Linked DNA regions of Homo sapiens: all the other regions are linked to region 2. The links come from fine-mapping of genetic effects on gene expression. A gene starts in region 2. Each other region holds a variant in brackets. All regions are shown on one strand. Distances are from middle to middle.

Region 1 (4,248 bases), 39 kb before region 2:
GGTACACTTTTGGCAATTAGACCACTGAATATCTTTCCATTTTTTTTCAGGTTAAAGAATTTCTTCTAATTATAAACTAACTTTCTCTCTCTCTTTCTTTCTTTCCTTTCCTTTTCTTTTTTTTTTCTTTCTTTTCTTTCTTTTGAGAAAGAGTCTTGCTCTGTTGCCCAGGCTGGAGTGCAGTGGCACCATCTCAGCTCACTGCAACCTCTGCCTCCCGGGTTCAAGCAATTCTCGTGCCTCAGCCTTCCAAGTAGCTGGGACTACAGGTGTGTGCCACCACACCCGGCTTTTTTTTTTTTTTGTTTTTGTACTTTTAGTAGAGACGGGGTTTCACCATGTTGACCAGGCTGGTCTTGAACTCCTGGCCTCAAGTAATCCACCCACCTCAGCCTCCCAATACAGGCGTGAGCCACTGTGCCAGGGCTTAATTATAAATTTTCAACTTATAAGTTATTACATATACAAAGCCTTATACCACAGCAATCCATTGGTCCTTTCTGCCACCAGATGACATTAGCATGGCCAATATAACCATTATTTGTGTTTTGGAAAGATCACTCTGGTTGTGGTGTAGAGAATGGATTGGACTGGGAGCAGGCACGACTGCAAGAGGTCAAGTGCTATTGTCTGGGTAAGAGATGATGGCAACCTGGACTACTGTAGTTAGTGGTGAAAGAGAGGTAGATAGATTGTAGTGACATTCAGGAGTTGTGTTGGGGTTTTCAAGACCACCCCCAGATTCAGTCATTCAGTAGGAGGACTCACAAGACTCAGCATATAGCCATAGTCATGGCCGATTTATTACAGTGAATAAACACAAAGAAAATCAGCAAAGGCAAAAGGGCAAAGTCCAGAGGAAACCAGGTGCAAGCTTCTAGAGTCCTCTCATAGTGGAGTCAAACAGGATGTATGTAATTCCTTCAACAACATGTTGTGTCATGTTTGAAATGTAATCTACCAAAGAAGCTCGATGGAGCCTAGGCATTTAGGGTTTTTCTCTGCAGGCAGTAACGTAGGCACCCTCTACCTAGCATGCACCAAAATTCCAGAATCCAAGAAAGAAAGCAGATATTCAGCAAAAAACAAATTGTTGTGCCAACAATTTAGGTACAGTGTAAGTACCTTATCAGGGAATTCTTATCAGGGAATGGTAGGAACCGTCCCAAAGTCCAAGTTCTCAGACACCAGCCAAGGGCCAACCTTATAAGCATGCCCTTCAAAGGACAGCAGTTTTAGCCCTGCTGTGTTAACTCTTCTGTGTCTCCTGCATAGCAGGTAAAATCAATATTTTCTAGTGCATTTCCAACCAAGGGTTTTATAGAATCTATGAAGGTAATATACTTCAGAAATAAACAGTATACCTGGCTTTGTCGTTGATACATATGCCAAAGGATTGTAACATGCCAGCTAACACAGTTAAAGGCTGATAAGCTATTGCGTCTTCAATAATTAAAGTATTACAAATTGAGGACTACTTGCACTGGGTCAGGCACTGTGGATACAAATGGTGACAAAACCACGCATGATCTGTGTCCTGATGGAACTCACAGTCCAGTGACGGAAGAGAGGAATTAATAAAATAATCACAGGGAGAAATATTTAAAGACAAAATTGAAAACTGCTGTAAAGGCAAGAGGTGTTGTACTATGAGCGCAAAACACGGGCATCAGATATGGCCTGGAGGAACAGGGAAAACTTCCCCCCAGGAAGGGACGCTTGAGCTTATCCCAGAAGAATGAATGGGCATTGTGTGAATGAGTGAAGCTGTGTATTGGAGGTAGTGAGGGTAAGGAGGTGGAGGTAATTTCAAGCTGAAAGTCCTATGGCTAATGTGTAGATGAAATGAAATGAAATGTGCCAAACCTCAGAAAGCACTGGAGAAACACTAGCGAAATTTATCTTCTCAAACGGTTGCTGTATCTGCCTACAGAGTTTCTACACAGGGACTCCGAAATTCTACATGGGTAGCAGTCAATTTCAACCCCACAAGAAGATGTAGGTGGGGAGCTGGAAGACCAGGCTTATCTGCAAACGCTGGCTCAGAACAGAGCAGCTGTGGCCTCTGATAAGCAGGGAATAGAGGAAGTGGTTTTGTCTCAGGCCTAAAAACCATTTGCTATCTCACAGCGCCTG[T/C]TAGTAAGTCACCTCCCCTTCAGTGTTTACCAAACATTCAGAGGCCCTGCACCTACAGTTCTGTGGAAACCACAACCTCATTCTCCTCAGTTAAAAGCCCAGTCTTTTTATCCCTTTCCTCCAAGTGGCACTATGGGTGACACAGAGAATTTCTACTCTCCAATTTGGGACTCGGACTCTGAATGTGGTTTCCAGGACTCTCTTTCCTCTTCTGATATGTGGGTGCCAATCCAAATTCAGTTCAACAAATACTTACTAAGCTCTGCTAGGCATTGGCTCCTGTGATAGGGCACTGTGAGTGAAAAATGAATAAGACAAAGCTTCTTCCCTGGAGGGAGATGACCCCCAAAACGTGATTTAAGTCCTCAATTTCCTCTCTCTAGGTTGACCAAGGCAGAACTCTCTTCTCCACCTTAACCAAGCACCTCTGCTGCCCTCCGGGTTTTTTCTGTTTCTGGCATTTGTCCTTCCTGTCTCTAGCTTCTCAGTCTCCTCTCAAGGTCCCAATCATCTCTCTACATCAGCTTTTCTTTTTTTCTTTGTCTGTCTTATACCCTCAATCCCTTGGTCTCTTGTGTCCACTCAGGGCCTGGGTTTTCAGACAGCACAGGGCTTTTATCATGTGGACTGTCTCCTTTGCTGTTTCATCTGTTTACTTCATTTTTGTTGCTCTCAAAAACCAAAACAAAGTAAAACACAAAATAGATGCATTATAAAATAATATTTATTGTGTCCTGCTGAAATGGAGCTTGTAGTCTCATTTCTTAGGCACTTACAAGGTAAAATTTATGAACCATACTTTATTAATGGGCATTTACAAATGCCTGAAATAAAAGGTGACTTGTAGAAGGGATAATATATCTTATTGCAAACATGACACCTAGCTTCTGGAATACGGTTAGTGGCATTTGCCACTAGTGAGCATAATTTCCATGTTCAAATGAATAATGAACTAATCAAAAAACCTTTTTTTGAGGAACTGAGGCACTCAGACACAAAACACAAAATTAGGCACTCAGACAAAAAGCAACTTATTAGCCAGTTGGAGAGAGAGCTAAGAAATACCATATCTATATAATTATCAGAGAATGTGATAAAAAGCTACTACTCTGTACTTGTGTGCCAAATGCTGTAAAAGTATAAATAGAGGGCAATATATTTCGCTTTGGACGGGAGGTTTTAGAAGGCCGCACAAGAGGGATATTCAGTCTGATGCTTGATGTAGACAGAAGGGAGAGAAGGGCATCCCAGACAACATGGGCAAAGGCATGGGAGGATTTGGTGGGTGTGTGGGCCCATGATAATTCTGTGTGGCTGGAGCCTTAGGGAGCAGGCAGGAGACAGCCTGGAAGGTCTGATGGGTCAGATTGCTAAGGAGTGTGGTTCCCCAGGAAAAACATTTTAGTGTGGAAGTGAAGTGATAAGATCCTCATTTTAGAAAGATTGCTCTTTATGTAATAGCAACCCAGGTAACACGTGATAAAGCAATGATCTGAGGGAGTGAGCATGTAGAGGGAAGGTGTATTAGAGAATTAGGCCAATTAAGGGCACATGCCTGAGAGGAGCCATATAGAGAAGTTGGAATTGACAGGACCTATTCTCTGACTAGATGTAGAGGGGATCTGGGGTGACAGGGAGAATGAAGGAGCCAAGGATGAAAAAGTTTTCTGCCTTGGGTAGCTGCTGATTGGTGAAGCAGTGAAGAATAGCAGTTCTGCACCCAGCCCCTGGAGTTGAATCCTGGCTTTTCTATTTACTAGGATGAGCTACTGTGATTCAGCCTTAAAGACTTCACCTTTCTGTGACCCAGTTTCCTACTTTGTAAAAGAGAGCATGGTTGTATCTTCTTCAGAAGGCAGATGAGATTTAATGTTTCTTATGGACTTTAAATGAGTAAATGTAAAACAGGACAGGGAATAGTACATAGTAGGCACTGGATAAATGTTAATTATTTTGATTATGGTGGATCATTAGCATAGGAAAAACACAAGGAAAGCAAGTTGGGAGGTCAGAAACAGACCTGTGAGTTAGATTTTGGACACGCTAAACTTGAGGTGACTTCTGACATCTATGCAGAGATGACCCATAAACTATTGGAAATACAAGTTGTAA
Region 2 (4,248 bases):
ACCATGGCAAGTGTTGTACATGCATTATCATCATTTTGATTCTCAAAACAATTCTACTGTATTAATACCTCCCCATTTTGAAGCTGAAACAAGAGTCAGAGGAGGAATGTAACTTCGTCTAGGTCACAAAACTTGTAAACAATTCACTACTAGCTGATTTGACAACTTTATTTCAGTTTCAGTAGATGAAAGAAGTGTATCCTAGAGCTACCTTTTATCTTAGCAGGTATTAACCTTTTGAAGAGCATCAAAAATTTGAAAGCAATGAGTGAAGAGGTCAGGTGGAGCAGAAAGAAGAACCAATGGGATTGGGATTAACCTTGGAATTAGAAAAACCAATGTCTATTTCCAGCTCTACCAATTTAGGTAGTGAAATTTCAGGTGAATTTTTAAACCCCTAAATCTTAATTTATTATTTTTCTTGCATAATGGGATTAATAACGTCTATCTTGCTCATCTCAATGGTTTTCATATGGATGACATAAGAATGTAGGCATAAACATTGTAGAATGTTTTGCAAATTAAGTGGTATCAAATGCTACCTTGTCTGGTCTCTCTCTGGAAGATTAGGGACATCCCTAGTACCATTCCTCATCTACTTGCATTTTCTGTCTGCCATTCTAGAGCGACCAGCAGAGGCTCCAAAAATTTGGTCTGACTAGTGGTTACAATCTCCATGAAGTTCAAATTAAAGGAGCCATAGCTTGAAATGGCCAAAGAAACCAGAGAGATCACAGTGCATTGATTCTACCTTTACAGAAAATCCAAACGTACTAGGTTCCCAGGGTTCTAACTCATGCCAGAATTCTGCTAGTGCATTTTCAGAACTGGCAAGAGATACTAGAAGTAGATCTAGAAGTTCCAAACATAGTAAATTTCTGTTAGAGCAATTGTTTGTATTTAAGGAGATAACATGTACAATGACACAGCACTCCCAGATCTATGTTAATGTTACAATTTTCTTTGTACAAATAACAATCAATATTCATGTCGTTCTTTTAGTTTACTGTTATGCCATAAGTAAGAAAAATAGGGTTTTTAATTCAAGTTCTCCAACTCTTTTTTGAGACTATTTGTAAAAAATGGGATAGTAATCTCTTCCTCATTTATTTTAGAGTTTGTTGAGGATAAAAGCAGAGTAATAGCTCTGTGTTTTGAAAATAAAGGGAGTTTATAGAGATGAGGCTCAACAATGATAACGATGAGTCATCCATCACTCTAACCTGATAGAACAATCAACTATAATTAGGAAAGACATTTTTCTCTCTCAAACGCCATCACAATTGAATGCCAAGAAGAAATTGCTTGTAAGTCATTCAAGCTTTTAGAAGATCTTTCTTTTGCCAGGCTTTTTGGGTGGGTTTACCAAGTGCTGATTCCTCTGAGAAGGATTTGCCTCAGACCTTTGGAAACTGAGATCTCCAGATCTCAGAAATATAACTCAGTAATATAAACTTTAAAGCTGAACCTAAACACTTAGGTTTGAATTTTAAGTCTCTCCCCAGCCAGTTGGATCCTGTTGAGTACAGTAGATACTGAGACCCAGGGTGTTCTGCTAAACACAGATCAAAAAGACAGTTCAATGTCTTCCTTAAGGGCAATTTTTAAAACTTTATGGAAAACTAGGAGGCGATCAGCAAGGGTCAGAACTCACAGGTTTGCAGGCAAAGGAGCAAGATCCATAGGTGGTGCTGAGCCATCTCTTTCAGGGTCTAACCTTCTGTGGAAAAGCACGGCACTGTTCTAGCAGAGTCAGTTTCACTTGAGTTTTCTTCCTCCTTTTTATAACGACATTTAAGAAAGGAAGTGCATGTTAACTGATTTAGTTAACATTGGTCTTTGTATTACTGTGCTAGTTTTTTCCAATTTAAAGTGCCTAGCATTAATTATTTATTCAACACATATTTATTGTGTGCCTACTATGTGCCAGGCCCTCTTCTGGGTGCTGGCAATATACAGAGCAACAAAACAATTGATCACCCTCCTTTCATGGCATTTATACTCTTTTTTGGAGTAATCAACAACTCTATAAGCAGTTCCAATTTAATGTAGTAAGCATTGCAATAGGAAAAATACAGGGAACTATGAGAGGAATAGGGGCATCTAACTCAGGCTAAGAAAAGTTGGAGTAGGCTTCCTAAAGAAACTGACAACCAACCTGAGACAGGCTCAAAGAATGAATTACCATTATTAGGCGAATGGCGGTGGGGGATATGAAAGAGGAAAAATGTTTTGACATATGGTAGGAGCTTAAAAAAACATAGCAATTAAAATTACATAATTATAGTTATATAAAATGATCACAAGTACATGATTATGTATTATAATGTATAATCAACATGTGATATTATTTAACATAATCAATATTAAGTATTATATTAATAATATATAATTATATTTATATATGATACAATAATATATAATTATATAATATATTAATATATAATATAGTATAACTACATACATATAATTATGTATAATTCCATGATATCATCATGAAACATTATGATTATGATCACACCTTATTAGGGACACAAAAAGTGTTTGATAAAAATGAAGTCAAAAGGGATTTTTAGACTATTGAATCTATTTTGCAGATGGAGAAACTGGCTCAGAAGGAGAGGAAGTGACTTTTCCCTATATCACACAGTGAATTAGGGAACTGAGTTAAAAGCCAGCAGTGTCACTTGGCAAAGACTGTGACTCCTGGGCATGAGAGACAGCAGGTGCAGAGGCAGGCTTAGGTGGAGTTGAGCTAGATGTAACAGGACTATTTCTTGTAGAGGGTCTTCATCTTGGTTAACAAGAATAAGAGTGATTGTGTAATGTGTGTATGGGAGATGTTGTCTGGGAATGGGGATAGAAATGAATATTTAAGTTTGACTCAGCTGTTTTGGGGAGTAATGAGAAGGCTGGGGACACTACCCCTGAGACCTGGAGGAGCTTTTTTTTAACTGAGACGAGTCCTCATGCTAGCTAGCTCATTCCTAGGTAACCTGGCCTCTAGAGTCACACATTAAATAATCCTGCTGATCATTTCCCATATATACTTACATAATACTGAATATAGTTGACCCTTGAACAATGCAGGGGTTTGGAGTGCTGTCCCCTCAACCAGTCGAAAATCCATGCATAACTTTTGACACCCCTAAACTCAACTACTAATAGCCTACTGTTGACAGGAAGCCTTACCAACAACACAGTTGATTAACACATATTCTATGTGTCATATACATTGTTTACCATATTCTTGCAGGAAAGTAAGCTAGAGAAAATAAAATGGTATTAAGAAAATCATGATGAAGACAAAATATATTTACTGTTCATTAAGTGGAATTAGATCATCATAAAGGTCTTTATCCTCATCATCTTCATGTTAAGTAGGCTAAGGAGGAGGAGGATAAGGAGGAGTTGGTCTTGCTGTCTCAGGGGTCCCTGGGGAAGAAGAGATAGAGGAGGTTGAAGGGAAGGTGGAAGAGACAGGCACAGTCGGTGTAACTTTTCAGAAGTATATTTAATTTTTGTCTGACTTTTTTGCTTGTTCATTTCTCTAAAAATATTTCTATATGGTACCCCTTCTTACTTCTACCATTTGTTTTAGTTTTAGTGCCTGTATCATACCATAGATGGGCCCATATCATAAAAGAAGTCAAAAGCGGTCCCGAATAGTCAGAAGCCTTCTGTCAGACTGTCTAATGTCAGCTTGTTTTCTGGCACTGCTGCTTCTATGTTTTCTTCCGCATTGTTTGATCCTGGCTTAGATGCATTCTTCTCCATCAAGTCATCTTCCATTAATTCCTCTGGTGTGGTGTCTATTAGCTCTTGAATTTTGCCAAGATTTATTTCTTGAAACCTTTTACCCCAACTTTTTTTTTTGCCATATCCACAATATCTTTCATAATTTCCTTGATTAGCTCTGTCATAAATCCTGTGAAGTCACGCACAACATTTGGACACAGTTTCCTCAAGCAGAGTTTATTGTCTCAGGCTTAATGGCTTTCACCACTTTTTCTGCAACAATGATAGCATCTTTAATGGTGTAATCTTTCTAGACTTTCATGATGGCCCTCTCCTGGGGTTGTCTTCCTAGGCATTGACAATTCTTTCCATAGAGTACGTATATAATGAGCCTTAAAGGTCCTTATGACCCCCTGTTCTAGAGGCTGAATTAGAAACATGTCTGGGGAGAAGTATACCATTTCAGTGCCTTTGCTGTTGAACTCCTGGGGCTCTGGGTGGCCAGGGGCA
Region 3 (4,248 bases), 61 kb before region 2:
TAGCCAAGACAATCCTAAGCAAAAGGAACAAAGCTGGAGGCATCATGCTACTGGACTTCAAACAATACTATAAGGCAGCAATAACCAAAACAGCACGGTACATGGTACTGGTACAAAACAGACACATAGACCAATGGAACAGAATAGAGAACCCATAAATAAGACTGCACATCTACCACTATCTGATCTTCAAAAAACGTGACAAAAACAAGCAATGGGGAAAGGATTCACTATTTAATAACTGGTGCTGGGAGAACTGGCTATCCATATGCAGAAAATTGAAACTGGACCCCTCCCTCACACCTTATACAAAAATTAACTCAAGATAGATTAAAGACTTAAATGTAAAACTCAAAACTATGAAAACCCTAGAATACAATCTAGGCAATGCCATTCAGGACATAGGCATGGGCAAAGATTTCATTATGAAATCACTGAAAGCAATTGCAACAAAAGCAAAAATTGACAAATGGGATCTAGTTAAACTGAAGAGCTTCTGCATAGCAGAAGAAACTATTATCAGAGCCAAGAGGCAACCTACAGAGTGGGAGAAAATTTTTGCAATCTATTCATCTGTTAAAGGTCTAATATCCAGATTCTACAAGGAACTCAAACAAATTTACAAGAAAAAAATCAAACAACCCCATTAAAAGGCGAGCAAAGGACATTAACAGACACTTCTCAAAAGAAGACATTCATGCAGCCAACAAACATGAAAAAAAGCTCAACATCACTGATCATTAGAAAAATACAATTGAAAACCACAATAAATTACCATCTCATGACAGAATAGTGATTATGAAAAAGTCAAGAAACAACAGATGCTTGTGAGGTTCTGGAGAAATAGGAACACTTTTACACTGTTGGGAATGTAAATTAGTTCAACCATTGTGGAAGACAGTGTGGCAAATCCTCAAAGATCTAGAACCAGAAATACCATTTGACCCAGCAATCCCATTTCTGGGTATATACCCAAAGGAATATAAATCGCTCTGTTACAAAGATATATGCATGCATATGTTCATTGCAGCACTATTCACAATAGCAAAGGCCTGGAATCAACCAAAATGCCCATCAATGACAGACGAGATAAAGAAAATGTGGAACATATACACCATGGAATACTATGCAGCCATCAAAAGGAATGAGATCATGTCCTTTGCAGGAATGTGGATGAAGCTGGAAGCCATTATCCTCAGCAAACTCATACAAGAACAGAAAACCAAACACTGCATGTTCTCACTTGTAAGTGGGAGCTGAACAGTGAGAACACATGGACACAGGGAGGGAAACAACATGCACTGGGGCCTCTTGGGGAGTGGGGTTGGGGGAGGGAGAGCATTAAGAAAAATAGATAATGCATGCTGGGCTTAATACCTAGGTGATGCGTTGGTAGGTGCAGCAAACCACCAGGGCACAGGTTTACCTATGTAACAAACCTGCACATACTGCACATGTACCCAGAACTAAAAATAAAAATTAAAAGAAAGAAATGTATTAATTAGTTCCCCCAACAAATATTTTCTGAATATCTGTAACTATGAATTCCATTAAACTTACTCTTCAGGTGTTAAAAAAAAAAAGAAGACATTTATGTGGCCAAGAAACATGGAAAAAAGCTCAACATCACTGGTCATTAGAGAAATGCACATCAAAACCACAATGGGATACCATCTCACACAGGTCAGAATGGCAATTATTTAGAAGTCAAGAAAAAACAGATGCTGGCAAGGCTGTGGAGAAATAGAAACTCTTTTACACTGTTGGTGGGAATGTAAATTAGTTCAACTATTCTGGAAGACAATGCGGGGACTCCTCAAAGACCTAGAGGCAGAAAGACAATTTGACCCAGCAATCCCATTACTGGGTATATACCCAAAAGAATATAAATCATTGTTATAAAGATATGTGTATGTGCATGTTCATTGCACGTGTATCTTCATTGCAGCACTATTCATAATAGCAAAGACATGAAATCAACCCAAATGCCCATCAATGATAGACCGGATAAAGAAAATGTGGTACGTATACACCAC[G/A]GAATACTATGCAGCCATAAAAAGGAATGAAATCATGTCCTTTGCAGGGACATGGATGAAGCCAGAAGCCATTATTCTCAGCAAACTAATGCAGGAACAGAAAGCCAAACACCGCATGTTCTTTAAGTGGGAGCTGAACAATGAGAACACATGGACACAAGAAGGGGAATGACACACACTGGGGCCTGTCGGGGGTGGGGCAGGGGGGAGAGAGAGCATCAGGAAAAATAGCTAATGTATGCAGGGCTTAATACTTAGGTGAGGTTGATAGGTGCAGCAAACCACCAGGGCACATGTTTACCTATGTAACAAACTTGCATATCCTGCACGTGTATCCTGGAACTTAAAATAAAATGATAAAAAAGAAAAAAGATAAAAATAGGTAAATTGTGCTTCATCAAAATTAAAGACTTTTGTGCATCAAAGAACATTATTAAGAAAGTGAAAAGACAACCTACAGAATGGGAGAAAATATTTTCAGGTCATGTATTAAAGGTCTGGTTCCAAGAATGTATAAACAACTCTTATAACTCAATAGCAAAAAGACAAATAATTCAACTAAAATGGGCAAAGGACTTGAATAGACATTTCTCCAAAGAGGATATACAAATGGCCAATAAACACTTAAAAAGATACTCAAAATCATTTGTCATTGGGAAAATGTAAATCAAAACCACAATAATATACCACTTCACACCTATTAGGATGGTGATAATAATCTTTTTAAAAAGGAAAAAAACAAGTGTTGATGAGGATGTGGAGAAATTATAACTCTTGTACACAGCTAGTGGAAATGTAAAATGGTACAGCCATTGTGGAAAACAGTTTGGCAATTTCCCAAAAAGTTAAGCATAGAATTATATGATCTGACAAATCCATTCCTAGGTATATACCCAGATAAAAACAGGTAGTCAAATACTTGTACACATAGCAGCACTATTCGCAAGAGCCAAAAGGCAAAAACAACCCAGGTGTCCACTGATAGATAAATGGATAAATAAAATGTAGTATATACAGAATACAAAATACTATTCAGCCAAAAAGGAATGAAGTACTGATACATGGTTCAGCATAGGTGAACCTGGAAAACATGATGCTAAGTGAAAGAAGTCAGACACGAAAGGTCATATATTGTGTGATTTCATTTATATGAAATTATCCAGAATAGGTAAACCCACAGAGACAGAAAGCAGATCGGTATTTGCCAGGGGCTGGGGGGGAGGGGAGAATGGGAAATGACTGCTTAGTGGGTACAGGGTTTCCTTTTGGGGTGATGAAAATGTTTTAGAATAATAGAAGTGGTGGTTTCACAAAATGTACAAAATGTCACTTTAAAATTATTACATCCTGTTACAAGAATTTCACCTTAATAAAAAATGTCTGAGTGTGAACAGAGAAACAATCAAAGCTGAATCTGGGTTAAGGGACCAAAAACAGAGGCATGAACACCTGGAGGTCACATTGGAGATTGCAGATTCTGAGAGGTGGAAAAACACGTGTCTGAGGATAATGAAAAAATATAAAACAGCTCTCTGCCTGTTGAGCACAATAAACATTTGAAAGATGTGGACGGTTGGTAAAAAGTAGATAACACTGCTCGGGGGCCATCAGGTCACAATCTCTTCACAGAAGAGCATTGCACATTTTGACTCAACCTCAGAATCAGCCCTCATGTGTTTGCTTTACTTACATTTCCAACCACTGCTCTCTCCTGGACCTCAGAATACCTATATCTGCTTCCTGCAAACACACTCAAAGTTAGTTTCTATTTCTTCCTCCCTACAATCCCAGTATGACTGAAGTCCATTGGAATTTAGAACCTTGCTGCTTAGTGTGGTCCATGGACAGGCAGCATTGGTGTCACCTGGGAGCCTCTTAGAAATGCAGAATCTCAGTCCCTATTCCCCAATCAGCATTTTAATAAGATTCCCCCAAGTAATTTATATGCACATTTAAGTTTGACAAATTTCCAACTTTCCATCTATAAAAATCAAAATGAAGAAACAAACGAGATTTATTTTCTCTAGGAAGTCATGATGCTTGATTTTATTTACAATTATTGTTTTGTTCTGTTAGTTTTGCCACCCAGGGCTTGAGTTAAAGGAAATGGGATTATTTTTCAATATGGTTTGTCTTTTCCACTAAATTTTCTAAAAGGAGTCAGGATAGTGCCCAACCCACTTCAAAGAATGTAGGCTGGCATGAGTCATTG

The links. PIP is the estimated chance that this variant, and not a neighbour inherited with it, causes the effect. A credible set is the group of variants that fine-mapping cannot tell apart.
Region 1: its variant is the best candidate, but not a certain one, in a credible set for the expression of CD84 in whole blood (INTERVAL, PIP 0.59).
Region 3: its variant is the best candidate, but not a certain one, in a credible set for the expression of CD84 in whole blood (TOPMed, PIP 0.89).

What each region holds. Positions count from the first base shown.
Region 1 is chr1:160,538,256-160,542,503 of GRCh38, forward strand. CD84 (CD84 molecule) reads right to left here. Exons shown (of 7, transcript NM_003874.4): 7 at 2,843-4,248. All of the region lies in intron 1 of CD84-AS1 (CD84 antisense RNA 1), which reads left to right. Among named protein-coding and RNA genes, the nearest start is that of CD84-AS1, 3.3 kb to the left of the region's middle. RefSeq lists enhancers at 1,839-1,928, 1,944-2,238. The variant T/C (reference allele first, on the strand shown) is at 2,137.
Region 2 is chr1:160,577,738-160,581,985 of GRCh38, forward strand. CD84 (CD84 molecule) reads right to left here and starts at 1,759. Exons shown (of 7, transcript NM_003874.4): 1 at 1,655-1,759. The coding sequence starts at 1,700.
Region 3 is chr1:160,516,539-160,520,786 of GRCh38, forward strand. The region is part of intron 1 of SLAMF6 (SLAM family member 6); the gene reads right to left. Among named protein-coding and RNA genes, the nearest start is that of SLAMF6, 4.6 kb to the right of the region's middle. The variant G/A (reference allele first, on the strand shown) is at 2,037.